4 separate regions of the Homo sapiens genome follow, and all the other regions are linked to region 2. The links come from fine-mapping of genetic effects on gene expression. A gene starts in region 2. Each other region holds a variant in brackets. All regions are shown on one strand. Distances are between the middles of the regions.

Region 1 (5,153 bases), 34 kb before region 2:
AAAATTAAAAAGGAAATAAAATAACTTCAGCCTTTACACCATTACTCTCTAAAAAAAATAATATTCCTTTTTCTATTGAGGATACAGCTTCTCAGCCTCAGAAAGTTGCCAATATATGTAACATATGTACCATACATTTTTCAAGGTAAGAATCATTTTAACCACTTCTTTCTCTCCTGTATATCGTTTACAGTTTTAGAATGCAGATGTTGCTACATTTACAAAGGGGGGAAATTTTAAAATCATTCTAATTTCTATCAAAATTCAACCCATATTTATTTTAAAAATTTGTGTCCATGGACCAATGATACTCAAATACTGCAAACTAAAGGGAATAATGCACTTGAATTTCTGAACCTGAGGTCCTCCCCATCCAAAAACATTTTTTAAGTAAATAAAAATTTGGGCCTAGATATCAATTCTTCTAAGTTTACATTTTCCCAGAACTTGGTGCCATGATTAATCATATACTTGATCAAATTAATACCATCCAGGGACATTTTAGAAACTGTAATCACATATAGGAAATAAATAGAGGATGCCGGGCGTGGTGACTCAAGCCTGTAATTCTAGAACTTTGGGAGGCCAAGGTGGGCGGATCACTTGAGGCCAGGAGTTTGAGACCAGCCTGGCTAACATGGTGAAACCCCGTCTCTACTAAAAATACAGAAATTAGCTGGGCGTGGTGGCGCACGCCTGTAATCCCAGCTACTTGGGAGGCTGAGGCAGAAGAATCGCTTGAACCCGGGAGGTCGAGGTTGCAGTGAGCCGACATCGTGCCACTGCACTCTAGCCTGGGTGACAGAACGAGACTCTGTCTCAATCGATCAATCAACAAAATTAGCCGGGCATGGTGGCGCGCACCTGTAATCCCAGCTGCTCCGAGGCTGAGGCAAGAGAATCGCTTGGACCCAGGAGGCAGAGGTTGCAGCGGGTCGAGATCACGCCGCCGCACTCTGGCCTGGGCAACAGAGCAAGACTTCCTCTCAAAAAAAAAAAAAAAAAAAAAAAAACAAGACAAAAGAAAAAGAAAAAACAAATAGAAGGGAATTATTACATATGTTTCTTCTCCAGCCAGAAACTGGCTTACACGAAGTATTTATTTTTTAAAAAACCCTCTAATGAAACAACGGAGAGAACAAAAGAGAAAGCAAAAAGTTTAAAAATCTAAAGTTAAAGATGTGCAGAGGAAATGAAAAATGGGGTTACACACAGGTGGTTTATTGAACAGCCACTGCTCGTTTCCTGACAAGCACCTGCAAGAGGTGATAACTTTAAGGTCCTTACACTTTTGTAGTGTTCACGACTCCGAAATTGAAACACTGCATATAAAAAAAAAACCTAACACTTCGTTTTCCAAAGACAATTTAGGATACTGAAGATGCAAAGCTACTTTTACCTCCAAATGTGTGTGCTGTTGTGTGTTGGTTAGTAAAACAAAATCAGACTAGGTCATTATAGAAGTGGAGTGAAAACTTCCTAGAATAAAATATTTCCTTAAATGATAACGAATCTGTCAGCTTGTAAAACGTACATCTCCCTTACCATTCTGGGTATAAGAACCACGGCAGTTCTTGGCTGAAATGTGGCAGAGGGCAGATTTGTTTAAGGGCTGAGTCTGGAAGCTTTGTTCTAATAAATGCGCAACTGCTGTTTAACAGTGCACTTTCTTTGTTTTTAAATGCCTTTTTAAAAAGAAGACAGACAAGTCTTAAGAGTTAGTGTACAAGACAAGAACTCTATCTCAAGACCATTACTAATTCAGAGGTCTTTAGATGTTCCTGCTGTTTGTCGCGGGTTAAGGAAATAAAGAGGACAGGACACTCTAAAAGGGGAAGAGACAAATAGTCCACACACACACCCCCCTTGGAAACAGTCCTCCAGCTTTGTGAACAGATTTTTAAAGCCCTCCCTCCAACATATCCGGTTAAGTCTAGAAAGCCCAAGGAAAGGGAAGACCCTGGTCGCTTCAGAGGCAGCTAGGACTAGGAGCGGAGTCGCGGTTCCTGATTTGCCCC[G/GC]CCCCCCCCCACCCCAAGAGGACCCTCATCTTCTCTCCCCTCCCACACTGGGCGCGCGCTCGCTCCCCGCTCGATTCCAGGCGGCCGGCGCCCCCAACTGATCCCGGAACACCAGCGTCCAGCACCTGGGCTCCACACGCCCCTTTCGGCCTGGGTCCCTGGGGGATGACCCTCCTCCCGCAGCCCAGTTCCAAGGAAAAGGATCAGGGCTGGAGAAAACTGCCATAACTGCCAAGCGCCCCTCGCCGCCCCCGCGGAGGCCAGCGGGCTCCCGCCCGGCTCTTCACACCTACCCGCCTCCCCCGGCGGACCCCGCGCCAGCTCCCGCGGCCCCGCCGCCACCAGAACCAGCTCCTGGCCGCAGCGCCATCTTGCTCCCGACCTGCCGCTGCCTTCGCCGCCGCCACCTTATCAGCAGCTGTCAGCTGAACACAGCCACTTCCGGGTCAAACACCAGGCCCCACCTCGCCGCGGACCGGGCGATGGGGCGGGGCCTCGCGCCCACGTGACTCCCCCGGCCCTCGGGGAGGCGTGGCGCGCCCACGGCACGTGACCCGGCGCCGCAGGGGTCCCCCAGATTCAATTCTAGCTCTCGGGCTGGTGGGGCGGTCGCGGGCGCCTCTCCAAGGGAGCTGATTCATTGTCTGGTAGGCCCTCTGCAGGGCCCAGCTGGCGGCCCAGTGGCAAAGCGCCGTTGGTCCTCCGTTTGAAAACCATGATCGCGGTTAGTGGAAAGAGTAGGCTGAGTCCTGATTTTTAAACTATACGGTGGGTACACTGGTGTTCTTTTATTGTTACTCTTTACACACAAAGAACAGATAGGTCCTGAAGGGCCCTTTGATAGTCTCGCAGCACTGATGAGTGATCAGCTCTCCCCTCTTTCTCTGGAACTCGGTAGCTTCATGTTGGCACCTATCACAGACGCTGAAGGCATTTAAATTTTATTTTAAATCAACCAAGAGCCCAAAAACCCAACCCATATTTCGAAAAAACTCCAAGGTGTACTACTCTTGTTTGGTTCTGCCATCCTGCCACCTTACAGTCCTTTTGTTTTTCCTATTCTTGCAGGCAAGTGCAAAACAGTGGTTTTTGGAAGGCAATTCATAATTACTCTGAAGCTATTTCGGCATATTTTTTACTGATTTTTTTTTTTTTTGAGACAGGGTCTTGCTCTGTTGTCCAGGCTGGAGTGCAGTGGCATGATCATGGCTCACAGCAGCCTCAGCCTCCCTGGCTCAAGCGATCCTCTCGCCTCAGCCTCCTGAGTAGCTGGGACCACAGGCATGCACCACCACACCGGGCCAATTTTTTTTTTTTTTTTTTTTTTTTTTTTTGTAGAGATAGGATCTATGTTGCCCAGGCTAGTTTCAAACTGCTAGGCTCAAGCTATGCTCCCACCTCGGCCTCCAAGTGCCAGGGTGTGAGCCACATGCCTGGGCTGTGATTTTTTTTTTTCTTTTAATCAAACTACTGTCTGGAAGTAAAACATGAAAGTTGAGTAATTTTCTCAAGCACGTAGTTTGCTTGCTAACAAGTAATGGATTAATTAGCTTTACGTTTTCACTCTTGTCTCAAGGTTTTTACTGGGTAATAATTTGTAATAAGTTATTAGGCACAAACCACTGGTCAGGAACTGTACACGCATTTTAAAAAATCCTCAGTATCCTTAGGAGTTACAATTGGCATCTTACAGATGAGAAAATCAAGGTTAGAAACAGTTACTGTCATTTGTCCAGATCATACAGCTACAAGCAATGAGGATCAGGATTCAAATCCAGGCCAGTTTGACTCTAAAGTCCTTGCTCATTTCACCAGAGCCAGCTATTCAATTTTTATGTTTTTTCTTTTGCTGTAACTGCCTGTTCACTAATTTCACTCCTTCCCTTCCTTGTGTGAAGCTGAAATTTATGTAGCACATAGTTCCAACTGCTTTGAAGGAGCTAAATTTAGTATTAATACACTGACTAAGTTGATACAGGTTACTGTAGATACTTTAAACAGACACAATAAAGTCAAGGATCATAGATGTGACCTCAGTTTGTCCTGGAATCCTTTTTGTTCCTCTTCTTTGCCTATTGGTTTTTACATTTGCAGGATTCAACTCAGGATGTCGGCCTTCCATGACATCCCCAATCTGGGTTAGATGCCCTCTTGTGATGCTTTAGCATCATGGCCTTACATCTAACAGAGCACTTGCCACACTAGTCATGTGCTACATGATGATGTTTTGGTCAGCCACAGACAGCAGATACAATGGTGGGATGAGAAGTGGGGGTGGAAGACAGTGAGACTGATGATCCTGACCTTTTGTATGCCTAGCATAATGTGTGTGTTTGTGCCATGGTTTTTAACAAAAAAGTTTTAGAAGTAAATAGTAAAACAAAACAAACAAACAAAAATTAATAGAAAAAAAGCTTCTAGAATAAGGATATAAAGAAATAAAGTATTTTTCTACAGCTGTACATTTGCATTTTAGGCTAAGTGTTATGACAAGAATCAAAAAAGTTTATAAAGGCCGGATATAGTGGCTCACTCCAGGTCAGGAGTTTGAGACCAGCCTGGCCAACATGGTGAAACCCTGTCACTAAAAATACAAAAATTAGCTGGGTGTGGTGGCGCATGCCTGTAGTCCCAGCAACTCGGGAGGCTGAGGCAGGAGAATCACTTGAACCCAGGAGTCAGAGGTTGCAGTGAGCCGAGATCATGCCACTGCACTCCAGCCTGGGCAACAGAGCAAGACTCCATCTCCAAAAAAAAAAAAAAAAAAAAATCTAAAAAACCCAACTGGACAACAAGCAAGACCTCGTCTCTACAAAATTTAAAAATTAGCTGAGTGTTGGTGGCCCGCACCTATAGTACCAGCTACTCGGGAGGCTGAGGTTTGAGGATCACTTGAGTCTAAGAGGTCAAGGCTGCAGTGGGCCATGATTGTGCCACTAAACTCCAAATTAGGTAACAGACCCTGTTTCTCAAAAAAAAAAAAAAAAACAAAACAAAAAAACTCATAAAGTAAAAGTTACAGTAAGCTAAGGTTAATTTATTGAAGAAAAAATATATATCTAATATATATAATACATAATATATATAATGTGTGTGTGTGTGTTTATTTTCAAGACAGTCTTGCCCTGTCGCCCA
Region 2 (5,153 bases):
GGGGACTGGAGAGAAACAGTAGGAAGGAACTTTACTTTTCATCATTGTATAACTCAAGTGTTTACCAAAAAAAGGTAAATGACTAGGAAACTTAATATTATAGATTAAAAAAATATAAACAGCCCTAGAGTACAGTACAAGAAAAAAAAAAAAAAAAAAGGCCAGGCGCGGTGGCTCACACCTTTAATCCCAGCACTTTGGGAGGTCGAGGCGGGCAGATCACGAGGTCAGGAGTTCAAGACCAGCATGACCAACATGGAGAAACCCCGTCTCTACTAAAAAATACAAAAATTAGCCAGGCGTGGTGGGGCACACCTGTCCCAGCTACTCAGGAGCCTGAGGCAGAAGAATCACTTGAACCTGGGAGGCAGAGGTTGCAGTGAGCGGAAAACATGCCATTGCACTCCAGCCTGGGCAACAGAGCGAGACTCTGTCTCAAAAGCAAACAAACAAACAACAAAAAAACAAAAACCTCTGTCAAAATGGGCAAAGAGTAAGAAGAAACAATTCACAAAAGGTGAAATATTAATGTCCAGTAAAGCATACAAAAATATGCTTGACCAGCCAGGTGTGGTGGCTCACGCCTGTAATCCCAGCACTTTAGGAGGCGGAGGCGGAGGCGGAGGAGGGTGGATCACAAGGTCAGGAGATCGAGACCATCCTGGCTAACACGATGAAACCTGGTCTCTACTAAAAATACAAAAAATTAGCCAGGTGTGGTGGCAGGCACCTGTAGTCCCAGGTACTTGGGAGGCTGAGGCAGGAGAATGACGTGAACCCAGGAGGCGGAGCTTGCAGTGAGCCGAGATTGCACCACTGCACCACAGACTGGGCAACAAAGCGAGACTCATCTCAAAAAAAAAAAAATGCTCGACCTCACCAGTTATCAGTAAAATATAAAATTGTTTCAGGCAGGGCGCGGTGGTTCAGGCCTGTAATCCCGGCACTTTGGGGGGCCAAAGCGGGCGGATCACGAGGTCAAGTGATCCAGGCCATCGTGGCCAACATGGTGAAACCCCATCTCTACTAAAAATACAAAAATTAGCTAGGCGTGGTGACACGCACCTGTAGTCCCAGCTACTCAGGAGGCTGAGGCAGGAGAATTGCTTGAACCCAGGAGGCAGAGGTTGCAGTGAGCCGAGATCGCGCCACTGCACTCCAGCCTGGAGACAGAGTGAGACTCTGTCTCAAAAAAAAAAAGTTTCATTCATTAGCTTGGCAAAAAAATTAACACCAATAATATTCAGCACTGACAAGGACTTGGGAAGTCACTTTGTAGTATTTTTCAGAGAAAGGGTACATACCCTTTCACCATATGATGCTACTTTTCGGATGGTATTCTGCAGAAATAACAGTACCTGTACAAAAGGATTTATGTATAAATATCTTTACTTAAAATTACCTTTGCTGTAACAATATTTCTAATGACAAATACCTGGAAACAACCTGAGTGCCATCAGCTGACAAATGACCTTATTGTCTGACTTGTAGCCATAAGCCTGTATTATTTTTATAACTGAAAAAAATTAAAGAGAAAAAACATGACAGAAATCAAACACTAACCTGAAGTCATCGTCTTCCTTTTTTTCTTGCTCTGCTCCCTCTTCCTTTCAGTTAGGCTCTCTTCTTTTTTCTCTCCATTTTGGGGCTTCTGATGTGTTTGTGATGCTCCACACACACCTGGGACAGACTTCTTGTTTCCAAAAAAGTCCAGTCCCTGAAGCACCTCCGAAGAATCAAAGTCATATTTCCTTTTTCCTATCTAAAACCCAAAAAATGTAAAATGAAACCTACTGACAGAATACCATTGCTTTCATTCAAGCAAGACTGTTCAATGACTCCTCATCTTTTCTACCCTTTCACCAAGTATCTGTCGAGCTAACAGGTGTCTGGACAAATGGAATCTGAAGAGACCTTCTCTGACCTCATAATAGTAACAAATTAATATTAGCAATGAACACATATATGCTTACTAAATGTCAAGCAGATTTCTAAGCATGTTTATACATATTAAATTGCTTCACATTTACAACTCTATAAGGTAAATAGCAGTATTACGAATGAGAAAACCAAGGCATTCGGAAATTAAGTAACTTGAGGTAGGTCTAAAAATGAGTAACTGGCAGACTTAGCATTTAGACCCAGATAATCTGGCTCCAGAGTTCATACTCACCAGTTAGAGAAAGAAGAAACACATGTCACACGCATATACACATCCAAACAACAAAGTAGACATTCAAGATTTTCCAGAATTGGGCCCCAATTGACCTCCCCCGATGTATCACTCACTACTTCTCTAGGTAAGAGCCCCCATTTCTTAATCGCTCTTCTCATTGGTTACTTAAGCCATGGGGTTGAAGCAATAAAAAGAATCACGCCCAGTACAACTATACGCATGCCAAGCCAAACTTGGGGAGACTATAGTAAGAGAATCTGTTTTCTCCATCTTTGGTTGTTTCTGTTTTCGAAATTCCTTTCCTCTAGGTTCGGAGAAAAAGTTCCTTTTGAAAGGAGGATTCCAACTTTGCTTTGAATAAGAGGGAGGAAAGAGGGTTTCCGTGCCAGGCCCAACTAGGTCTACAACAGGATAGTTAAAGAGCTTATTCAAAAGGCTTGAACCGAGCAGCCGTGCAGGCAAGCCGAACACAAAAGGAAGCAAAATACCCCAAGGGTGGCGAGAGCCAGGCCACGGGTGTCCAAGTGCGCCGGCCTCCCCCAGCAGCGGGTTCATTCCCGGGCTCCTGCTCCTTCTCAGTTACTCGGCCCTCGGTCCCTTGGGCACAGTACCTGGAATCGAGCTGCGTCTGCCGAGAAGCGTCTCGTGTCGAATTTGGCCCCCGCGCCGAGCCGGCGAAAGAGATCGTGGACGTCCATCTTTACCCAGAAAGCGCCACAGTTCTACGGCGCCTGCGCAGACTACTTCCCAGGCCCCGGGCAGCGTCGGAAGAGGGCGTGAGCATAATTGGCTCCTGTAGGCGGAGCCTGGCTGGGTGAGAAACGAGGCTATTTTATTATCGTGTACTCCGTCATTATTTATCTTTTTTTTTTTTTTTTGAAACAAGGTCTCTCTCTGTCGCCCAGGCTGGAGCGCAGTGGCGCAATCGCAGCCTCGAACTCCTGGGCTCAAGTGATCCTCCCATCTCGGTCTCCCAAACTGCTGGGACTACAGGCGTGTGTAAATTCTTTTAAAAAATATTTATCAGTATCCTCTTATGTTGGGCACTGTTCTAGACTTTGAGGGATACTATAGTAAACAACATCTTAAGATTCCTCTTCTTACGAAGCTTACATTTTAGTAGGGACAACAGATATTGTTAACAAATAAATAAGCAAAATCTCTGTAAAGTAATAAGTGCTATAAAACAAAAAGGTGTAATTGATAGAGAAAATGATGAGGGAGCTGACTTAGTGAAATTCACTCTGTTGAAGTGAAAACTTGAGCTAAGAGGAAGCAACCTGTCCAAGATCTGGGAACAGCATTCCAGATAGGGGAAACACGTGGCTGAAGGGAAAAAAATTGGAACCTTGAGGGAATAGAAAGAATGCCGGTGCGACTAGAGCCAAGTTGCAGTCTGATAGAGTAGTACAGATAAGGTTGGAGGGACAAACAGAAGCCAGATCTCACAGAATCTTGTAACAAGGTCATAGTAAGGAATTTGGACTTCCACCTTGGGAAACTATTTGAAAATTTTTATGGAGAGAAGAACATGATTTAGTTTATCACATTTAATTTTTTATATTTATTACATCTGTACGAAATTATTTACTGCTTATTGCCTCTCCCTCTTCTGGAATGTAAGTCCCTGAGCACAGGGATATACTTTGCTTCGTTATGTATCCCCAGTTTCTGTGCACTTTGGTGAATGAATGCGTGGATGTTTCATAAAGGATTACACTGGCTATTTGGAGAATGGACCATAGAAAAGCTAAGAGTGGAAACAGGTTAGTCAAAGTAGAATGATGATCATGGCTTGTCTAGGTTGGTATCTGTGCTGAGAGAGATAAATGGATTAGATCTGGCATGTATTTTGGAGGTAGAGCTAAACGTACCTGACGGATTTTATGCAGAGGTGAGAGAAAGGGAGGAATCAAAGATCACTCCTAGTTTTTTGGCTGAGTAGATGGCATGCCATTTACTGAGCTAAGAAAGCCTGAGAGAAGAAGGGCTTTCTGGTACAAGTGAGATACGGAGGATGGAATCAATTGTTATGTTTTGGACGTGTTAAGATGCCTACCTAGTTGACTTTAAGTGGAGACATCCAAGTAGGTAGTTGGTTCTGAATCTGAAGCTCAGGAACAAAAATTAGGGCTAGAGAAATTAATTTGGAAGTCATCAACATATAAATGATACAAAGGAGTTGTACCATATAAGCATTTAACTTATAAAAATTCAGTTATATGTATTTGACCAAAGAGAATGAAACATACTTGAAATTGTATGGGTGAGTCCTTTACAATCAAGGAAAGCAGGTGTGAGGTGAGCATGTGATGGGGGAGGTGAATCTGCGGTTTCTCAGATGAATTCAGCCCCTTACTCCCTATTACAGTGGGTCGGGGGGTGGTCTTCCTGTCCCAAGTGTGTCTACTCTTTAAAAATAGGAACTTCCCAAGTACTTCATCTGTTGTTCAATAAAAATAATTTATCTTCAGCCAGGCGCAGTGGCTTATACCTGTAATCCTAGCACTTTGGGAGGCCAAGGTGGGCAGATTACTTCAGCTCAGAAGTTTGAAACCAGCCGGGGCAACATGGCGGAACTCCATCTCTACAAAAAATTAAAACATTAGCTGGGTGTAGTGGCACACACCTATAGTCCCAGCCACTTGGGAGGCTGAGGCAGGAAGATTGCTTGAGCTTGGGAGGTTGAAGCTGCAGTGACTTGTAACGGCACCACTGCACTCCAACCTGGGTGACAGAGTGAGACCTTGTCTCAAAAATAAATAAAATTAATCTATTTCAACATAAGAGGAAAAACTCAATATTAGTGTGTTGATCTTCAGTTTGGCACATAAATATGGCCATAGCCATATATAAAATTAATATGTATGAAATGGCAACTACCATACTTTGTGGATGACTTAGGGAATTTAAAAAAAAATTCAACTTTATGAGATTTTTTTTTTCTTTATGAGCTGATTTAGAACCTAATCCCTAT
Region 3 (5,153 bases), 48 kb before region 2:
ACTCTGATGTCCTTCAGTGAGCAAAAGGTTAAACAAACTGTCATACATCCACACCATGGACTATTACTCATCGATTATAAAAAAAATGAACTACTGATACATGCAACAATTTGGATGAATCTGAAGGGATTATTCTAAGCGACAAACGCCAAACCCAAAAGGTTAATGATTCAATTTATATAACATTTTTGAAAACACAAAATTATAGAAATGGGGAACACACTAGTGAATGCAAAAGGAGTAAGGTGGGGCAGGAAGGAAGTGAATACAGCTACAAAAGGACAATGTGAGGAGATCCTTGGGGAGATGGAAATGTTCTGTATCTCAGCTGTGCCAATGTCCATATGCTGGTTGTGTTACTATATTTCTACAAGTTTTACCAATAGGGGAACTGGGCAAAGGATTTCTATTATTTCTTACAATAACACAACAGTTTGCAACAGGTTTACACATGTCCATCATGTGCTCTAAACTTGCCTAGATGTTTGAAATGCTTCAGAATAATAATTTTAAAATGTATTGTACATCATGAGGAGTGTTTTCTTTTTATGTGTTTTGGGGAAGGGAGAGATTATAATAATCAATAATAATATAATAATAATCAAGACTAAATTTCTGGCCGGCGCGATGGCTCACACCTGTAATCCCAGCCCTTTGAGAGGCCAAAGCGGGTGGATCACTTGAGGTCAAGAGTTCAAGACCAGCCTGGCCAACACTATGAAATGCTGTCTCTACTAAAAATACAAAAATGAGCCAGATGTGGTGGCATGCACCTGTAATCCCAGCTGCTTGGGAAGCTGAGGCAGGAGAATCGCTTGAACCCAGGAGACAGAAGTTGCAGTGAGCCGAGATTGTACCACTGCACTCCAGCCTGGGCAACAGAGCCAGACTCTGTCTCAAAAAAAAGACTAAATTTTTTTATGTTGACTTTTATCTGAATCATCACTTTTATCTCCAAAGACTTAAGAGATAACTAAAGGAACAATGGGTTTGCTTCATGTATGTCCCTGATTGGTTAGGGCTATTGAGTTTCGGGGTGGGGGGAAATAAAATCTGGATGTTTTTCTCCTTAAAAAATGGTGAGTGGCGGACAGGTGTGGTGGCTCATGCCTATAATCCCAGCACTTCGGGAGGCCGAGGCAGGCAGATCACCTGAGGTCAGGGGTTTGAAACCAGCCTGGTCAACATGGCGAAACCCCATCTCTACTAAAAATACAAAATTAGCCGGGCGTGGTGGCACATGCCTGTAATACCAGCTACTTGGGAGGCTGAGGCAGGAGAATCGCTTGAACCTGGGAGGCGGAGGTTGCAGTGAGCCGAGATCGTGCCATTGCACTCCAGCCTGGGCAACAAAACTCCCTCTCAAAAAAAAAAAAAAAAAATGGTGAGCAGCTTCCAAACAGTATAATGCCTGTCAGCAAGATTAAAGGTTAAAGAAAAAGACTTTGGCTGCTTTGTCTTAGAATCATTAATACACAAGCTTCTGATATTCAGGGACATTATTAAGGTACTAACAACTCTCATAGTTTACTTTTTTCTTATTGTTCTGCATATTAGAGACTCTTACTGTTTTTGGTTGTTTCAAACTCTAAAAACATTTTTCAGATAATTGTGTAAGTCATAAAATAATGTTTATGAATATTATTTTAATTATATTAATTACAATATTAATTATTTTAATTATATTAATTACAATATTAATTATTTTAATTATATTAATTACAATATTAATTATTTTAATTATATTAATTACAATAATATTAATTTTAATTATATTAATTACAATATTAATTATTTTAATTAATATTTAATATTAAAATAAAAATTAATGATTTAAAATTTGTATCAATTGTTATTAAGATTCAGTATTAAGCTTAGGAAGTCTTAATTTAAAATACATTGTATTCTATGGTAGATTGTTTTTAGTTATTTGCTGCCTTTCTTCTTCTTTTTTTTTTTTTTTTTTGAGATGGAATCTCACTCTGTCGCCCAGGCGGGAGTGCAGTGGCGCAATCTCAGCTCACTGCAACCTCTGCCTCCTGGGTTCAAGCGATTCTCCTGCTCAGCCTCCTGAGTAGCTGGGATTACAGGCATGCACCACCACGCCCGGCTAATTTTTGTATTTTTAGTAGAGACGAGGTTTCACCATGTTGGTCAGGCTGGTCTCGATCTCCTGAACTCATGATCTGCCCACCTCAGCCTCCCAAAGTGCTGGGATTACAGGTGTGAGCCACTGCTCCCAGCCATTTGCTACCTTTATTCTAAGAGAACTACACATCCCTATGTGGTTTACATTCGTCCTGGTATATTCCTCCCCTATTGATGTTAAGGCCACATTACTTTGGTGAGCAGAAGTGACT[A/C]ATAAATGCTACCTCCAAGTGTTAGCTTTAAAAGACATCACAGGGTTTGGCCATCTCTTTTTCCTATGCCAAGAGCCTAGGATGTCCTGGCTGAGGGTCTTAGGATAAAGAAAACATGGAGCAGAGTCAGCACTAACCCATAAGGATATGTATCACGAGTGAGGAATAAACTTTTCTAAGTCACTGAGATCTGGGGACTGTTTCTGCAGCACACCCTAGTGAAAGCTAGCTTAACATGAATTAAAAACCTACACAATTTCAATGTATTCCCTTCCTTCTAGAGACAGATAAAAAATGACACTGGAAGTTTTCCTGACCCTTTAAACACAAAACAGAAGCTTTATTTGCATAATCGACTTCAAAACAACAATGGTTTCAACTTAAAATTCTGGTCATGAAGTCCTAATATCACTTATTTATAAGTTATATACATGTGTTACTGTATAAAAGTATATACTGTATAACAAAACACACAGAAATAGAAAATGTTAAAGTATTAGGTAAATAAGTAAACTAACGCAGAAACAAAAAACCAAATACTGCATGTTCTCACAAGTGGGAGCTAAACACTGGGTGCACATGGACATAAAGACAGGCTCGACAGACATTGGAGACTACAAGACGGGAGAAAGTGGGGGAAGGGTTGAAAAACTACCTGTTGGTACTATGCTCACTACCTGGGTGATGGGTTCCATCATACCCCAACCCTCAGCATCACACAACATATTAGTGTAACAAACCTACAAACGTGCCCCCTGAATCTAAAATATAAGTTGAAAAAAGCAAAAATAAGTAAAGTATTAGGTAAAAAAGAAATACAGTATATGGCCTTCAAGATAGCTGTTAATAGTACAAAAGCAAAAACCTTTTTTTCCTCTGGCCTTTTTTTTTTTTTTTGAGACGGGAGTCTCACTTTGTTGCCCAGGCTGGAGTACAGTGGCATGATCTTGGCTCACTGCAACCTCCACCTCTCGGGTTTAAGGGATTGTCCTGCCTCAGCCTCCCGAGTAGCTGGGACTACAGGCACATGCCACCACGCCCAGGTAATTTTTGTATTTTTAGTAGAAACAGGGATTCACCATGTTGGCCAGGCTGGTCTCGAACTCCTGACCTCAAGTGATCTGCCCGCCTTGGCCTCCCAAAGTGCTGGGATTACAGGCATGAGCCACTGCACCTAGCCTTTTCCCTCACTCTTGGAGGGTGAACACATCTTCATTTTAGTTTGAAGGAAGCCATTTATTTATGCTTATTTCTAATTGTAACATTAAGCTCTTAGCCTGTAGCTCTTGATATATAAACGTAACAACAAACAATAACTTTGTAAGAAACCAACTAAAGAAGCAAGTACCTGCATAGCAATAGGTCCTTGGGACATCTGAGAGCTGTAATTCATTCCCATAATGCCTTGCATATTAGGCTGCATGACAGAGACCATAGGAAATCCTTGTTGCTGCATCGGCATCAGGCCTGCTGAAAATATAAAGACATTATTAAAGTCAATGTGTTTTAAAGTTTATTTTCTTAAAACCATAAGTACCTAAAGGACTTGTTACTTGGCAGGAAGCAGAGTGTAATGGAAAAAGCACAGGGTCCTGAGTGAGACAGATGTGAATATGAATTCCAACTCCATCATTTACTTAGCTGTGTGATCTTGAACAAGTTACAAAACTTCATCTGTAAAATGAAGATAATATCTCTTCTATGGAATTTGTATGCATATTAAAAAACAGTATGGCCTAATTGGGGTACTCAGCCTTCAAGATGGCCTCCAATGACCTCTGTCTCCTGGTATTCATACCCGTGTGTTGTTCCATTCCATACTGAATGGGGCTGATCAGTATAACCAACAGGATACTGTGGAAATGACAGCATGTAACTTCGAAGGCTAGTTATTTTTTTTTTCTTTTGAGACAGAGTCTCACTCTGTCACCCAGGCTGGAGTGCAGTGGCATGATCTCAGCTCACTGCAACTTCCACCTCCTGGGTTCAAGCCTCCCAAGTAGCTGGGACTACAGGTGCCTGCCACCACGCCCAGCTAATTTTTGTATTTTTTAGTAGAGATGGGGTTTCGCCATCTTGGCCAGGGTGGTCTTGAACTCCTGACCTCAACACCCGCCTCAGCCTCCCAAAGTGCTGGGATTACAGGTGTGAGCCACTGTGCCTGGCCTGAAGGCTAGTTCTTAAAAGACACTGTAGTTTCCTCCTGGTTCTTTTGGATCACTTGCTCTGGAGCAAGCCACTGCCACGTCATGAAATACTCAATAAGACCTATGGAGAATCCATGTGGTAAGGTACTGAGGTCTTCTGCCAAAAGGCAGCATGAATTTGCCATCTATCTCAGCGAGCCACCTCGGCAGCATCTCCATGAAACTTTCAGATGACTGCAAGCCTGGCTGACATCTTCACTGCAATCTCATAAGAGGTCTTGAGCCTGAACCACCCAGCAGAGCTACTCCTAGATTCCTGACCGAGAGACACACTATGAAATAATAAAATGTTTACTTTTTAAAGTTTGGGATAATTTGTTACACAACAGCAGATAACTAACAAAATAACAGTTAGGAGCATGAACTCTGGGAGCCAACTAGAAATGACACATACTATTTTGGAACCTTGGGCAATCTGCTTCTTTCTATGCCTTGGTTTATCATTTGTAAAACTGTTTAATACTTACTATGCTCAAAGAAATGTTATTCTTCTTCCTTTTTCTTACATGAATAGGTAATATAACAGTTACCACAAAATAGCCATCAGCATGTGCAATGGCAGAAAACTATCACGAATGTATGATTT
Region 4 (5,153 bases), 22 kb before region 2:
GCCATTTTTCTTACCACATACTTACTGTTTATCCTTAGCTTTTTCTAAGAAACATTTTGGAGTTGTACTAATGCTCTCCCTTTCCAATGGTTTCTTAATCATCTTTTTCTTTTGTTTGCTGAAAGTTACAAAGTAAAAAAGGAAAAGAATTAAGTGCAACTTCAATTAGAAGAGTTAAAGCTAAAATTAGTTTTGATCCTTGATCACAAAATTCATTTTTTTTTTTTCCTTTGAGACGGAGTTTTGCTCTTGTTGCCCAGGCTGGAGTGCAATGGCACAATCTCGGCTCACTGCAACCTCTGCCTCCTGGGTTCAGGCGATTCTCCTGCCTCAGCTTCCCAAGTAGCTGTGATTACAGACATACACCACCACGCCCGGCTAAATTTTTTTTTGTATTTTAAGTAGAGATGGGGTTTCTCCATGTTGGTCAGGCTGGTCTCAAACTCCCGACCTCAGGTCCCGCCCGCCTCGGCCTCCCAAAGTGCTGGGATTACAGGCGTGAGCTACCACGCTCAGCCACAAAATTCATTTTTCAAAACCATTTACTGGTTTAAGGTGGGGCTGTAACTACTTTAATAAACGAGATCGCCTAATAGGATTTACAGAGCTAACTCAAAGGGATGATAAATTCAATCAACCTTTTAGAAAGCTACTGACTGTGATTAAAATATGTCCTGTGCCAACCTTATATCCTGTGTCAACAAGCATCAGAGTTTGATTTTGATCAATTAAGTTTTTTACCAGCTTTATGAACTAAAATAATTCTCAGCATATTTTACTTATACTGAATACTTTTAAAAGAATCTGAATACTTCACATTTCAAGGATAAGCCTAGGTGCAGTAGCTCATGCCTATAATCCCAGCACTTTGGGAGGCCCAGGTGGGCAGATCACTTGAGGTCAGGAGTTTGAGACCAGCCTGGCCAACATGGTGAAACCCCATCTCTACTAAAAATACAAAGATTAGCTGGGCATGGTGGCGCACACCTGTAATTCCAGCCACTTGAGAGGCTGAAGCAGGAGAACTGCTTAAACCTGGGAGGCAGAGGTTGCAATGAGCTGAGACTTCATCTCAAGGAAAAAAATAAATAAATAAAGGATAAAAAACTGGCAAGGAAATAACATGTAATATTCACAAGCAGTTTTGGACTGGGCACAGTGACACAAGCCTGTAATCCTAGTACTTCGGGAGGCAAGGATATAAGATAGCAAGATCACTTGAGGCCAGGAGTTCAAGACTAGCCTGGTTAACACAGCAAGACCCCATTTCTACTCCCCAAAAATCTAAAAAATATTATAGCCAGGCATGGTAGTACATGCCTGTAGTCTCAGCTACTTAGGGGACTGAGGCAGGAGGATCACTTGAGCCTAGGAGATCAAGACTACAGTGAGCTGTGATCATGCCACTGCACTGCAGTCTGGGCAACAGAGCAAGAAAAAAAAAAAAAAGAATGTATATACAAAGAGACAGACAAAGATACAGGTAAATTCAAGATTGTACCTTAGTAGTTTCTGAAAACCTTTTATGTATTCTGGTACAGGACACCCAGCCTGCTGTATAACATTAGCAACGCTGAAAAAGAAACCCATAAACATAAACTTGTATCTTTGCTAAATTGATGTTTATGAATGTAAACCCTCTGCACAACCTTACAGGGAACTAAAACTACACAAAGTAATCCACAAAGTGTTCTGATATATTATCAATTATTACCTGATGTAAGCACATTGGATTACAGAGAGAACTATCCACTGGGCTGAAATTAATGCACTGATGAATAACTATAGATAGCAGCTATTTCAACATTTATCAAGCCCTACAAAACTGGTAAACTCAATCTTGGAGGAAGCACTGACTGAAGCCAGAGTCAAGCTTAAATTCATTAAGTGAAAGTGCCTACTATGGGGTTGGCACCGTTGCCAAGTTTTTTGTGTATAGTAACTTCTTCACTCTTCACAACAAGCCTGTGTTGTAAATACTATCACTGTCCTCATTTCACAGATGGAAAACTGAGGTGCATAGTTTTACACTAATATTTGGGTCATGGGATTCACATGCTTGGAGTTGCTGAGGCCTATGGTGGATCTAGGTTGTTGGAATATACCCCTCTACACACGCACATTTGAATCTGCTTAAAGCGATATAAAGGCTGACAGGTGGCAGAGCCAAAGCTCAGAAAGCACAACCAAAATATTTACCAAAACTGATAAACAGATCTAAGTACAAACCTCCTTTGGCCAAAACTAGATTAGCTAGAAATGTGAAGTGTTAATCATCATCAACCAAAAATTACTATAGGCAGTCAAAATGCAGGAAACTCATCTTCTACATTAAAATCTAACATCAACCATTGAAAGAGTCCTGAGTCTGAAACTTACAATGAACATTCCATTTTGAATATGTATTTCCAAATTCTAATAACGGAAGGGCAAAAACAAGGCCTTTTGATCATTTTTCCTTTCCCATGGCTAAAATTTGGTCAACTAACACCATTATCAGTAGAATTTGGGACATAGCCATTTTGTAATTATCTCTTAATTGAATATACATATAAGAATAATGAAGCAATTTTGCCAATAACACTAGGTTATTTTTTCTAATTTACCTTCTTAATAATGGCTTATCATCCTCAGTGAAAAATGTAATTGCTTTTCCCTTATTCCCTGCTCTTCCAGTTCGACCTAAGAAAAATTAGACCATTAAAAAACACATTTTGGGGGGAAGGAGGCTCTCAAAATTCATTTATAAAAGTCACTGGATTTTCACAGCACTAAGAAGTGAGCATATGTGCAGGGAATAGCAGGGGTCCTAAGACAGATCAGTGGGTGACAGAGGGGAAGGAAAAAAAAGACAACTCACCTATCCTGTGGATATATTCCACTGAGCTAGTTGGAAAGTCATAGTTGATCACCAAGTTCACACCTTTAAAATCAATCCCTCTTGCTAGCAAGGCTGTACAAATCAGAACCCAG[A/G]TTTTTCCTGCTCTGAAACTGTGGACTGTGTTATCTCTCTGGTTAACAGAATATATATTAAATTGTTTTAGAATGAAAACAGGTACTTCATAAATTTAATGTCAATAGTTTAAAATCAAGTAGTTCTTCTGAGTTTCAAAGTATATATTTGACTTTACCTGTTGTTGTGTTCTCTCTGCATGAATAACATCCACATTAATACCTTCATATATGAGCTCATGAAAAAGTTCTTTAGCCCTTTCAATGGACTGAACAAAAACAAGAACAGGTGGATTGAAACCCTAAAAGAAGACAAAAATTGGCATACATAACTCAATCAAGAATACAATTGGTCATTATTTCATAATTTGATTGTAGCTTTTAAGAACCCAATTCAATTTAGTGTACTTTCTTGGCCAAATTTCTTGGGCTAGTGGTCTAATTCTGCCTCCATCTTCGTCACCATTCTCTCCAATTGGTTATTTCCACTCAACTTGAAATATATTCTCCATCTTGCTAATTCCAATAATGTTGTCTAATCAATCCCCCTACACCCCACTATGGTAACAGATGCCTCAACTTTGAAATAATCATCTCTTGACTTCTGTGCCTCAAAACCTTTTTTTATTCTGCTTAAAATGAAATAATTATCTTTTTAATTCACTGGGTTTTTTGGGGTGAAATTAATTTTTTTATTCTTATGGATTTAGGGGTACAGGTGCATTTGTGTTACACAGATATATTGCATACTGGGGAAATCTGGGCTTTTAGTGTACCCATCACCCCAATGGTGTACACTGAACCCCACAGGTGGTACTTCATCCCTCATTAACTCATTATTTATCCTAACTCTGGTGCTCTCCCCAAGCTTAGTCCTTGGTTCTCAGTTCTTTCAATATAATCTTTATTTTACTGAGTTGAATCTCTACTACTATCTCTAAGTAAACATTTTTTTTTTACTACATCTGATGTCTGTGAATCTAAACAAATTATTTTTACATTTACACTATCAAACCCTTACTCTCTCTCAAACCAGCTATCTTTTTAACCGTTCATATTAGAGTTTCTTAGCCTTTTTTTTTCTTTTTTTTTTGAGACAGAGTCTTGCTATGTTGCCCAGGCTGGAATACAGTGGTGCAATCTTGGCTCACTGCAACCTCTGCCTCCCAGGTTCAAGCGATTCTCCTGCCTCAGCCTCCTGAGTAGCTGGGATTACAGGTGTGCACCACCACGCCTGGCTAACTTTTTTGTATTTTTAGTAGAGATGGGGTTTCACCATGTTGGTCAGGCTGGTCTCGAACTGCTGACCTGATGATCCGCCCGCTTCGGCCTCCCAAAGTGCTGGGATTACACCGGTGAGCCACCACGCCTGGCCGAGTTTCTTAGCCTTTTTATGATGGCTTAAACATCTCTTTTGGAATCTAATGAAAGCTAAGAAACTTTCTAATAAGTAACTACTCATTCACACAAAAATCTTACGTATAATTTTAGAGGGTTTGCAGACCTCCCAAAGCTCAAACATGGCTGAAAACCTCTGGTGTATAATCTCCAAGGAATATCCTGGAAAACCTTAAATTTCCTAGTACCAAATGATTCTCTTAAGAATATTAATAAAATACATTTAGCATTTACTATGTGCCAAGCACTATTATATAATAAGTACTATGCTTGTACTAATGAATTAATAGTAAAACAGCTCTATGAGGTAGATATTATTATCCCATTTTACAGACAAGGAAAATGTGGAAGAGAGGTTAAGTTGTGCAAAGCTATAGTGGTGGAGCTAGAACTACCCAAGTAGCCTGGCTCCTGAGTCCATGGTCTTAACCACTAAAGCAAACCATTCTATAGTCACCAGGTACTTGCAAACTTTTCCCTTCTAGCCTCCAACTATACTTAATGTCTCACCACTAAGGCTGCTGCCCTTATTTCTTCCTCATCTCTGCCTACCCCAGTTTAAAAGCCTGATTGGTTTCCTTACTTTCCATCTTTCCCATTACAATTCACCTTACATATTACTGTTTAACTAATTTTCCTTAAAAATTATGTAGTCACAATTAGCCGGGCATGGTGGCAGGCACCTGTAGTCCCAGGTACTCGGGAGACTGAGGTAGGAGAATGGCGTGAACCCAGGAGGCAGAGCTTGCAGTGAGCCAAGATGACGCCACCGCACTCCAGCCTGGGTGAAAGAGCGAGACTCC

Evidence for each region. PIP is the estimated chance that this variant, and not a neighbour inherited with it, causes the effect.
Region 1: its variant is fine-mapped to the expression of DDX52 in lymphoblastoid cells (GEUVADIS, PIP 0.95).
Region 3: its variant is fine-mapped to the expression of DDX52 in whole blood (INTERVAL, PIP 0.90).
Region 4: its variant is fine-mapped to the expression of DDX52 in whole blood (TOPMed, PIP above 0.99).

Annotation. Positions count from the first base shown.
Region 1 is chr17:37,606,968-37,612,120 of GRCh38, forward strand. It overlaps SYNRG (synergin gamma), which reads right to left and starts at 2,451. Exons shown (of 22, transcript NM_007247.6): 1 at 2,312-2,451. The coding sequence starts at 2,388. It overlaps DDX52 (DExD-box helicase 52), which reads right to left. Exons shown (of 15, transcript NM_007010.5): 15 at 2,772-5,153. The variant G/GC (reference allele first, on the strand shown) is at 2,019.
Region 2 is chr17:37,640,547-37,645,699 of GRCh38, forward strand. DDX52 (DExD-box helicase 52) reads right to left here and starts at 2,900. Exons shown (of 15, transcript NM_007010.5): 1 at 2,788-2,900; 2 at 1,564-1,762. The coding sequence starts at 2,874. It overlaps LOC105371756 (a long non-coding RNA gene), which reads left to right and starts at 2,392. Exons shown (of 2, transcript NR_188617.1): 1 at 2,392-2,990. RefSeq lists an enhancer at 447-947.
Region 3 is chr17:37,592,515-37,597,667 of GRCh38, forward strand. SYNRG (synergin gamma) reads right to left here. Exons shown (of 22, transcript NM_007247.6): 3 at 3,709-3,830. Among named protein-coding and RNA genes, the nearest start is that of SYNRG, 14 kb to the right of the region's middle. The variant A/C (reference allele first, on the strand shown) is at 2,361.
Region 4 is chr17:37,618,267-37,623,419 of GRCh38, forward strand. It overlaps DDX52 (DExD-box helicase 52), which reads right to left. Exons shown (of 15, transcript NM_007010.5): 10 at 3,132-3,254; 11 at 2,861-3,011; 12 at 2,607-2,682; 13 at 1,502-1,573; 14 at 26-118. Among named protein-coding and RNA genes, the nearest start is that of MIR378J, 5.8 kb to the left of the region's middle. The variant A/G (reference allele first, on the strand shown) is at 2,974.